Homo sapiens: one gene and its partner. Changing the gene in region 1 together with any one later gene gives a genetic interaction. Each region holds a gene or a part of one and is shown on either strand. Other genes may lie near its edges.

Region 1 (3,821 bases):
CTCATTCTTCAGAACATATAAGGGTGAAATGATGACCAACACCTCCTTGCTTGTTAGTCATGTCTGTAAAAGAAATGGTTCAATATCTCAAGTTGTCTTGCCATTTACCTGCTTTTAATGTCTGTTTTGCAGATTGGGATCAAAGCCACTCACATTAAGTTACCAAGAACAACCACAGAATCTGAGGTGAGCTTTTATGAGTTGATTGTGAAGAGGGAAGGTGAAGTGGTTTCCTCTCTGGTTTTGGTTTACGGGGGCTTTGGGGACTGACACATTTAGCCAAGACCTCCAGGTATTTTTTTTTTTTTTTTTTTTGAGACACAGTTTTGCTCATGTCACCCAGGCTGGAGAGCAATGATGCGATCTCGACTCTCTGCAACCTCCGCCTCCCAGGTTCAAGCAATTCTCCTGCCTCAGCCTCCCGAGTAGCTGGGATTACAGGCGCCCACCGCCTCACCTGGCTAATTTTTATATTTTTAATAGAGACGCGGTTTCACCACGTTGGCCAGGCTGGTCTTGAACTCCTGACCTGAGGTGATTTACCCGCCTTGGCCTCCCAAAGTGCTGGGATTACAGGCGTGAGCCACCACGCCTGGCACCTCCAGGTATTCTTTCTTCACAGACTCCCACAGAGGAGATGGTGCAGGGATGAACATTTGGTACTCAAAGTGTGACTGCAGTACTGTTTGCTTCCAAATCATCTGTTGTGTTTGTTAAAACTGATCCTTGGAGCCAGGCACGGTGGCTCATGCCTGTAATCCCAGCATTTTGGGAGGCCGAGGTGGGCAGATCACCTGAGGTCGGGAGTTCGAGACCAGCCTGGCCAACATGGAGAAACCCTGTCTCTACTAAAAAATACAAAATTTGCCAGGCGTGGTGGCGCATGCCTGTAATCCCAGCTACTTGGAAGGTTGAGGCAGGAGAATCACTTGAACCCGGGAGGCGGAGGTTGCAGTGAGCCAAGATCGTACCATTGCACTCCAACCTGGGAAAAAAGAGCAAAACTCCGTCTCAAAAAAATAGGTAAAACCGATCCTTGGCCTGTAATTATCTGCATTCTAAAAACCAAATATGTATTCCTTTTATATGAGGTTCAGGACTAGGCAGAACAAATCAGCGGTGATTAAAGTCAGAACTGTGGTTGCCTGTAGGTGGGAGATTAATGCTAAACTGTAGGAGGATAAAGCAACTTTCTTGAGGTTATGGCAATGTTCCATATATGCGCTGTCCAGTATGGGAGCCACTAGCCCCATGAGGCTATTTGAATTTAGTTAAAATGAAATAAAATTAAAAATTCACTTCCTTGGTTGTACTAGCCACTTTGCAAGGATTAAGTAGCTGCTATTGTATTGTAAGGTGCAAATTATAGAAAATTTCTGCCATCGCAGAAAAGATGATTGGACATTGCTGCTCTACATCTTGATTTGGATGATTGTAACATGGGTATTATTGCTGTAATAAGTTATTAGAGTTCTTAGCTCTTTTTATTTTATTGTATTGTATTTTTAGAGACAGGGTCTCACTCTTTTGCCTCAGCTGCAGCACAGTGGTGTGATCATAGCTCATTGTAGCCTCAACCTCCTAAGCTCAAGTGATCCTCCCACCTTAGCCTCTTGAGCAGCTGGGACTATAGGCATGAGCCACCATGCCCAGCTAATTTTATTTTATTTTTGAGGCAGAGTTTTACTCTTGTCGCCCAGGCTAGAGTGCAGTGGTGCAATATTGGCTCACTGCAACCTCCACCTCCCAGGTTCAAGCGATTCTCATGCCTCAGCCTCCTGAGTAGCTGTGACTACAGGCATGCGCCACCACGCCCAGCTAATTTTTGTATTTTTAATTGCCCATATTGCCCAGGCTGGTCTCAAACTACTGACCTCAAGTGATCTGCCCACTCAAGCCTCCCAAAGTGCTGGGATTACAGGCGTGAGCCACCGCACCTGTCCCCGCTTTTTTTTTTTTTTTTTTTTTTTTGAGACAGAGTCTTGCTCTGTTGCCCAGGCTGGATGCAGTGGCATGATCTCAGCTCACTGCAGCCTCCGCTTCCTGGGTTCAAGCGATTCTCATGCCTCAGCCTCCTGAGAGGCTGAGATTACAGGCATGCGCCACTATGCCCGGCTTATTTTTTATATTTTTGTAGAGACAGGGTTTCACCATGTTGGCCAGGCTGGTTTCAAACTCCTGGCTTCAAGTGATCCAGTAGCTGCTATTGTATTGTAAGGTGCAAATTATAGAAAATAATTTTCTATATTTTGGGAGGCCTGCCTTGGCTTCCCAAAGTGCTGGGATGACAGGTGTGAGCCACCACACCCAGCCCTAATTTTTTTTTTTTTTTTTTGAGGTGGAGTTTCACTATTGTTGCCCAGGCTGGAGTGCAATGGCACAATCTCAACTCACTGCTGGAGTGCAGTGGCACTATCTCAGCGGACTGCAACCTCCACCTCCCAGGTTCAAGCAATTCTCCTGCCTCAGCCTCCCGAGTAGCTAGGATTACAGGCATGTGCCACCACACCTGGCTAATTTTGTATTTTTAGTAGAGACAGGGTTTCACTATGTTGGCCCAGCTGGTCTCAAACTCCCAACCTCAGGTGATCCACCCACCTCAGCCTCCCAAAGTGCTGGAATTACAGTCGTGAACCACCGCACCCAGCCCCTGGCCCTAATTTTTAAAAAGTTTTTGTAGATATCACATTTCACTGTGTTGTCCAGGCTGGTCTTGAACTCCTGGGTTCAAGTAATCCTCCTGACTTGGCCTCCCAAAGTGCTGGGATTACAGGCATGAGACACCTCGCCCAGCCTCTTAGCTCTTTTATTTGATGGACTTCTTACCAGACACCTAGGGGATGCATTCTATGTTAAAGTACAGGTGCTCTCAGGATTCAAGGGGAAGGTACATTCTGAAAGGACTATAATTAAAGTGTTGGGGGGAAATAGGGCAACCTAATTTTTGCCTTAGAAAGTGTTTCTTCCTACCTTTTGATTTCTGTGTGATATACAAATTATATATGGTATTACTTTTAGGTGATGAAGTACATTACATCTTTGAATGAAGACTCTACTGTACATGGGTTCTTAGTGCAGCTACCTTTAGATTCAGAGAATTCCATTAACACTGAAGAAGTGATCAATGCTATTGCACCCGAGAAGGATGTGGATGGGTAAGTGTGGCTTGGCTTCCTATGTCTCATTGCATGCTTTCATTTATAATATGTTTCTATTTGGGGAATACAGCATAAATGTTTCTAAAGAGTAAAGACATCTAATTGCCTTTATTTCCTTCTTATTTCCATCACTTTTTTAAGATTGACTAGCATCAATGCTGGGAAACTTGCTAGAGGTGACCTCAATGACTGTTTCATTCCTTGTACGCCTAAGGGATGCTTGGAACTCATCAAAGAGACAGGTAAAAACAACAAACCAAACAACAAGAAAGCACCATTTCCTGAATCCTGGTCTTGACATGTGGTGGCATAGAGGAGGTACATTGTGGGCCATAAATAAATGGACTTGATTGGCAGAAGGGCCTGTCTACTAAGGATGTTACCTAAATTTTCTCTCAATTTTCTCAGCAACTCTGTGAAGTAGGTACTGTTATTGTTCAACTGCTAAGAAAATAGGCTCAGGCCAGGCACAGCGGCTCATGCCTGTTATCCCAGCACTTTGGGAGGCTGAAGCGGGCTGAGATCACCTGAGGTCAGGAATTCGAGACCAGCCTGGTCAACATGGTGAAACCCTGTCTCTACTAAAAATACAAAAAAATTATCCAGGCAGGGTGGCATGCACCTGTATTCCCAGCTATTCGGGAGGCAGAGGTGGGAGGATTG
Region 2 (3,821 bases), on another chromosome or scaffold:
ACAGAATCATCTCAGGTTTTGAAATATACCTAACAAATTCAACCTCTTGCAAAATAACTTTCTTATTCAAAATGGAACTGGGAATTGTTCAGCACACAATGAATCATCTTTTGGCAAGTACAATAGAATCTTTAGGGACATTTCACAGCCTCTTGTTCAATTGTTAGGATGTTTTTAGCTTTCACAGGTAGGGAAGAAGGTAGCTTATATAGCCATCATCTTGTTGCTAAAATTGTACAGTAAAGATTTTTCAGGCAATAGATCTTTTCAGATTTTTTTTTCCTTTTTCTTTATCCAGAGCCTCTTTGTGTCTCAAAAACAATCTGGAATTACTTAATGCTAATGTTTTCTGGTTTTACTATTTACCCAGGACTCAAATGTTAAACATTAATATGGGAAACTCCCTTTTCCTTGCCTCATAGCCTTATATTTATTTAACTGTTATTTTGTGAGAAGAAAATCTCCTCTTTTCCTCTCCATGTTAGTACTTTTCTTATTAAGAAACCCGTTTTCGTTTTGTTTTTGCTTTTTTTTAGGAGGCTTTCGAGCTACCCTTGGATGATTGTGAAGTGATTGAAACTGCAGCAGCGTCCGAAGTGATTAAATATGAGTATCATGTCTTATATTCCTGTAGCTACCAAGTGCCTGTACTTTACTTTAGGGCAAGCTTTTTAGGTAAGAACATGTCTGAAGCTAAAAGTAAATTTATAACATTTACATATAAAGCAAAAAGCATATTTGGAAAATTATTCTCCAGAGGAAAAAAAATAGAGTTAAAAATGAGAAAACTGTGGGTGAGGTAAGGTTTTACCACTAAATTTTCTCATGCTTCAGAAAGGGTATCAAGACTTCAGCGTGAATGATATCATCTCAGCCTTAAGTCTGATCTTCAGATTCTTGGCCTTTTGCCTGAAGTTGACTAAGCCCCCTGGCCCTTTTTCTTTTCTTTACTTTAAACAAGTAGGAACAACTTAAAGCTACAATGTTTATTTACTTCTAACTTTACAGTAAAAATTTATTTTAATCTCAGATGATCCAATTAACTCAGAAGCTCCTGTGCCTCCTTCCCCAAAAGCTAATAATTATTTTAAGAAATGTTTATCAATTAGCTTAAGCTGTATTTAAAAATAGCACTAACATTTCCTTCAGCCATCTATACATCTCCAATGCCTTAGCTTCCTGTGATGCTGTTACTCAACTCATTCCCCTGCCAAGAAGGTGGAATACCCTGTCTCCTTGGAGGCCTTAGCTAATAAAGCTTATTTAATCAGCAGCCACATGGCGTCCTCACTCTGCAGCACAGCCATGGCTTCCCGCTTAGAGTCCACTGCCTAAACCGGGTCAGCATTGGGATGTGCTGCCACCCAGGCCCAGGGACCAAGATGAGCCTCCTGTTCAGCCAACCCCTTGCCCTATTTCTCCTTTTGTATCTGGCCTTATCAGCAGCATTGTGCATTTTGAACAGCCTTCTGACTTTTTTCTGGATAGCTAAGACATCTGAATTTAGCCAATGATATTTTATTTTTAATTCAAAAGTAGCTTAAGCTGCTTGAATGTATGTTTGGTAGATTTAATCACTTGCTGTTATATTGTTTAATGGTCTCTAATTTTGCAGTGTTGGCAGTTTAACAAGCACTTAGGATTTAAAACACAAGAAGAAATTCTCATAGACTCCCTGGTGAGAAGATTTTAATCTGAGGTGCAGTTCCTAAGAACTGACAATTTGGGGTAAATTTTCAACATGGGACATGGGGAATGGAGGACACTGATAGTTCACTAATTCACAAACTCTTGCTGTGGATTTATCCATATAATTATTACAAGCCTTTAAAACACTCATTTTATGGTAATTATATTTGGTTTGGAGCCCAGAGGTTAAAGGAAGTTTCTTGTCAGTGAGCTGTGCTATACTAAAAAGTAGGAGATATATTTGTTTATTCAGGGGGAGGAAAATGTCTTTCTTGGTTCTGGTTTGCAATGGCTCTGCCTTCTAGATTCAGAGACAAGTCGAGGCTGCAGGTAGAGGAAATAAGACATTACTTCTTCAATACTGTACTTTCATATAATTAGTATTCACCATAAGCAGTTAATCACCAGAGAAGAGCTCCCAGAGACAAAACAAGTTGTTTAGCTTGTCAGCATTAGGGAATCAGAGGTGTTGAAACATGACTGCTTCTAGCTGGAAGTGGGTCTTGCCAAGGCCTGCTGATGAGCTCATATGTGTGCTTTGCTCTTATGTGCCAACAGCTCCCCTTACAGTACAGCACAGTAATTGTTCCTGCAAGTCCAATTATATTTTAATGACATTGGTGTAGTTTCTGTGATCCTTTCTTCACGATTTTCTATTCTTTTAAAAAAACACAATTAACATTCTTGGCTTCTATTTGTATACTTTTACAATGCCCTCCATTTATGCCTTATAAAGGTAAACCAAAACAAGTCATTTGTTTTTATGTAGAAGCATTCGCCCCCCACCACCACTGCTTTGTGTTGTGTAGAGTGGGTATTAGGAATTTAAAATTTTATTTTGGCCCAGAATTCATTTAGTGCTTGTTCAGGTACATTAAAATATCAAATTTAATTTTTGTGCAGCATACTGAATGTTTTCTGGTGGAGAAACATGAAGAATGGTTCTTTCTTTCCTTTATCATATTCTAATAATTTATTTTTTCTTTCCACCTAACTTAACCTCATGGATATTTTTAAAATGTATCAACCTTTACTCTGGAGTCACAATTTTTCATTTATTCCCCCCCCAGTCTTTTTTATTCTCCTTACTTTTTCCTGTGATATCTGATTACTCTGGCCCTTCATCTGTTTGTTAAACAAATCTCTGTCAGTGTGGTGAAAGGATTCCTAATGTCTTCCTCTTATTCCAGGCCCGGATTTTTCTTTGTCTCATTCTAAGAGAGTTCCGACCTAGAAAGAGGATGACTGTAAAATTTCTTGCCCAGGGGTCTTTTTTTGTTGTTGTTGCTTCAAAAATAGTTCACTTAGCCTTGTTTTTGACAGATATTTATAATTTCTTTTGCATTTGATTGTTAGTACAAATTAATTTCTCTGCTTTGCTCTAAATTTTCTCCCTGTACCTATTTTTTTAAGGAAAAGCAAAACAAGTAATAAATAGTTTCCATTTAAATTTACATTACCCTTTCTTGTATCAACTTGTTTAGATTTCAGAAGAAATCTTTACTCTGGTTCTCGAAATGCAAATCCCTTAGACTTTGAATTCCTTTTCTTTATATGGTCCAGTTTCCACCAGGCCAATTACTAGTAGCCCAAGACTCAGTTAACATGCCATCTATTCTTGTCGCTCCCATGTCATGTCATGTCATATCATATCATATATTCTATTATATCACAATTTGTACTATAGCAGAAATATTTGTTTATATCTATAAAATGATATGCTGGAACATAGAGCTTCAAGATAAAAACAAGAGTGAAGGAAATTGATACTGAGTGCCTACAAAGTGAGAAGCTTTATTTATGGCTTTGTGTGTATACATGTATAAGATATATGTATGTATATATATGGCTTATTCAGCTGTGGCACAGCATCAAGTATTTGTTAAGTGAAACGATAAAGAAGAATTTCTAGTCATTTAAAAAATACAGCCCAAGAATGGAAACATTGTGATGGTGCCTACTTCAACTGCTATGCCAGGTTTTGAAAGAGGAAGTAATTCTGTTGTCTCCAGGAGACCTAAGACCCAAACCATCTATGTATCTTTACTCTTTAGTCTGATACTTTTCAGAGACTATAGGAGTAGTGGACTTAGAAAAATAGAACATCCTGAGGACTCAAAAGTGGGTATCCA

What was found.
Region 2: of MTHFD1 (region 1) and ATG10, changing one suppresses a phenotype caused by changing the other (phenotypic suppression), as found in Homo sapiens cells (one large-scale study listed by BioGRID).

What each region holds. Positions count from the first base shown.
Region 1 is NC_000014.9:64,412,340-64,416,160, forward strand, and holds part of MTHFD1 (C-1-tetrahydrofolate synthase, cytoplasmic), read left to right. Parts: intron 1-132; coding exon 133-186; intron 187-3,018; coding exon 3,019-3,155; intron 3,156-3,299; coding exon 3,300-3,400; intron 3,401-3,821. UniProt on the Homo sapiens protein: Trifunctional enzyme that catalyzes the interconversion of three forms of one-carbon-substituted tetrahydrofolate: (6R)-5,10-methylene-5,6,7,8-tetrahydrofolate, 5,10-methenyltetrahydrofolate and (6S)-10-formyltetrahydrofolate.
Region 2 is NC_000005.10:82,163,863-82,167,683, forward strand, and holds part of ATG10 (ubiquitin-like-conjugating enzyme ATG10), read left to right. Parts: intron 1-536; coding exon 537-675; intron 676-3,821. UniProt on the Homo sapiens protein: E2-like enzyme involved in autophagy. Acts as an E2-like enzyme that catalyzes the conjugation of ATG12 to ATG5. ATG12 conjugation to ATG5 is required for autophagy. Likely serves as an ATG5-recognition molecule. Not involved in ATG12 conjugation to ATG3.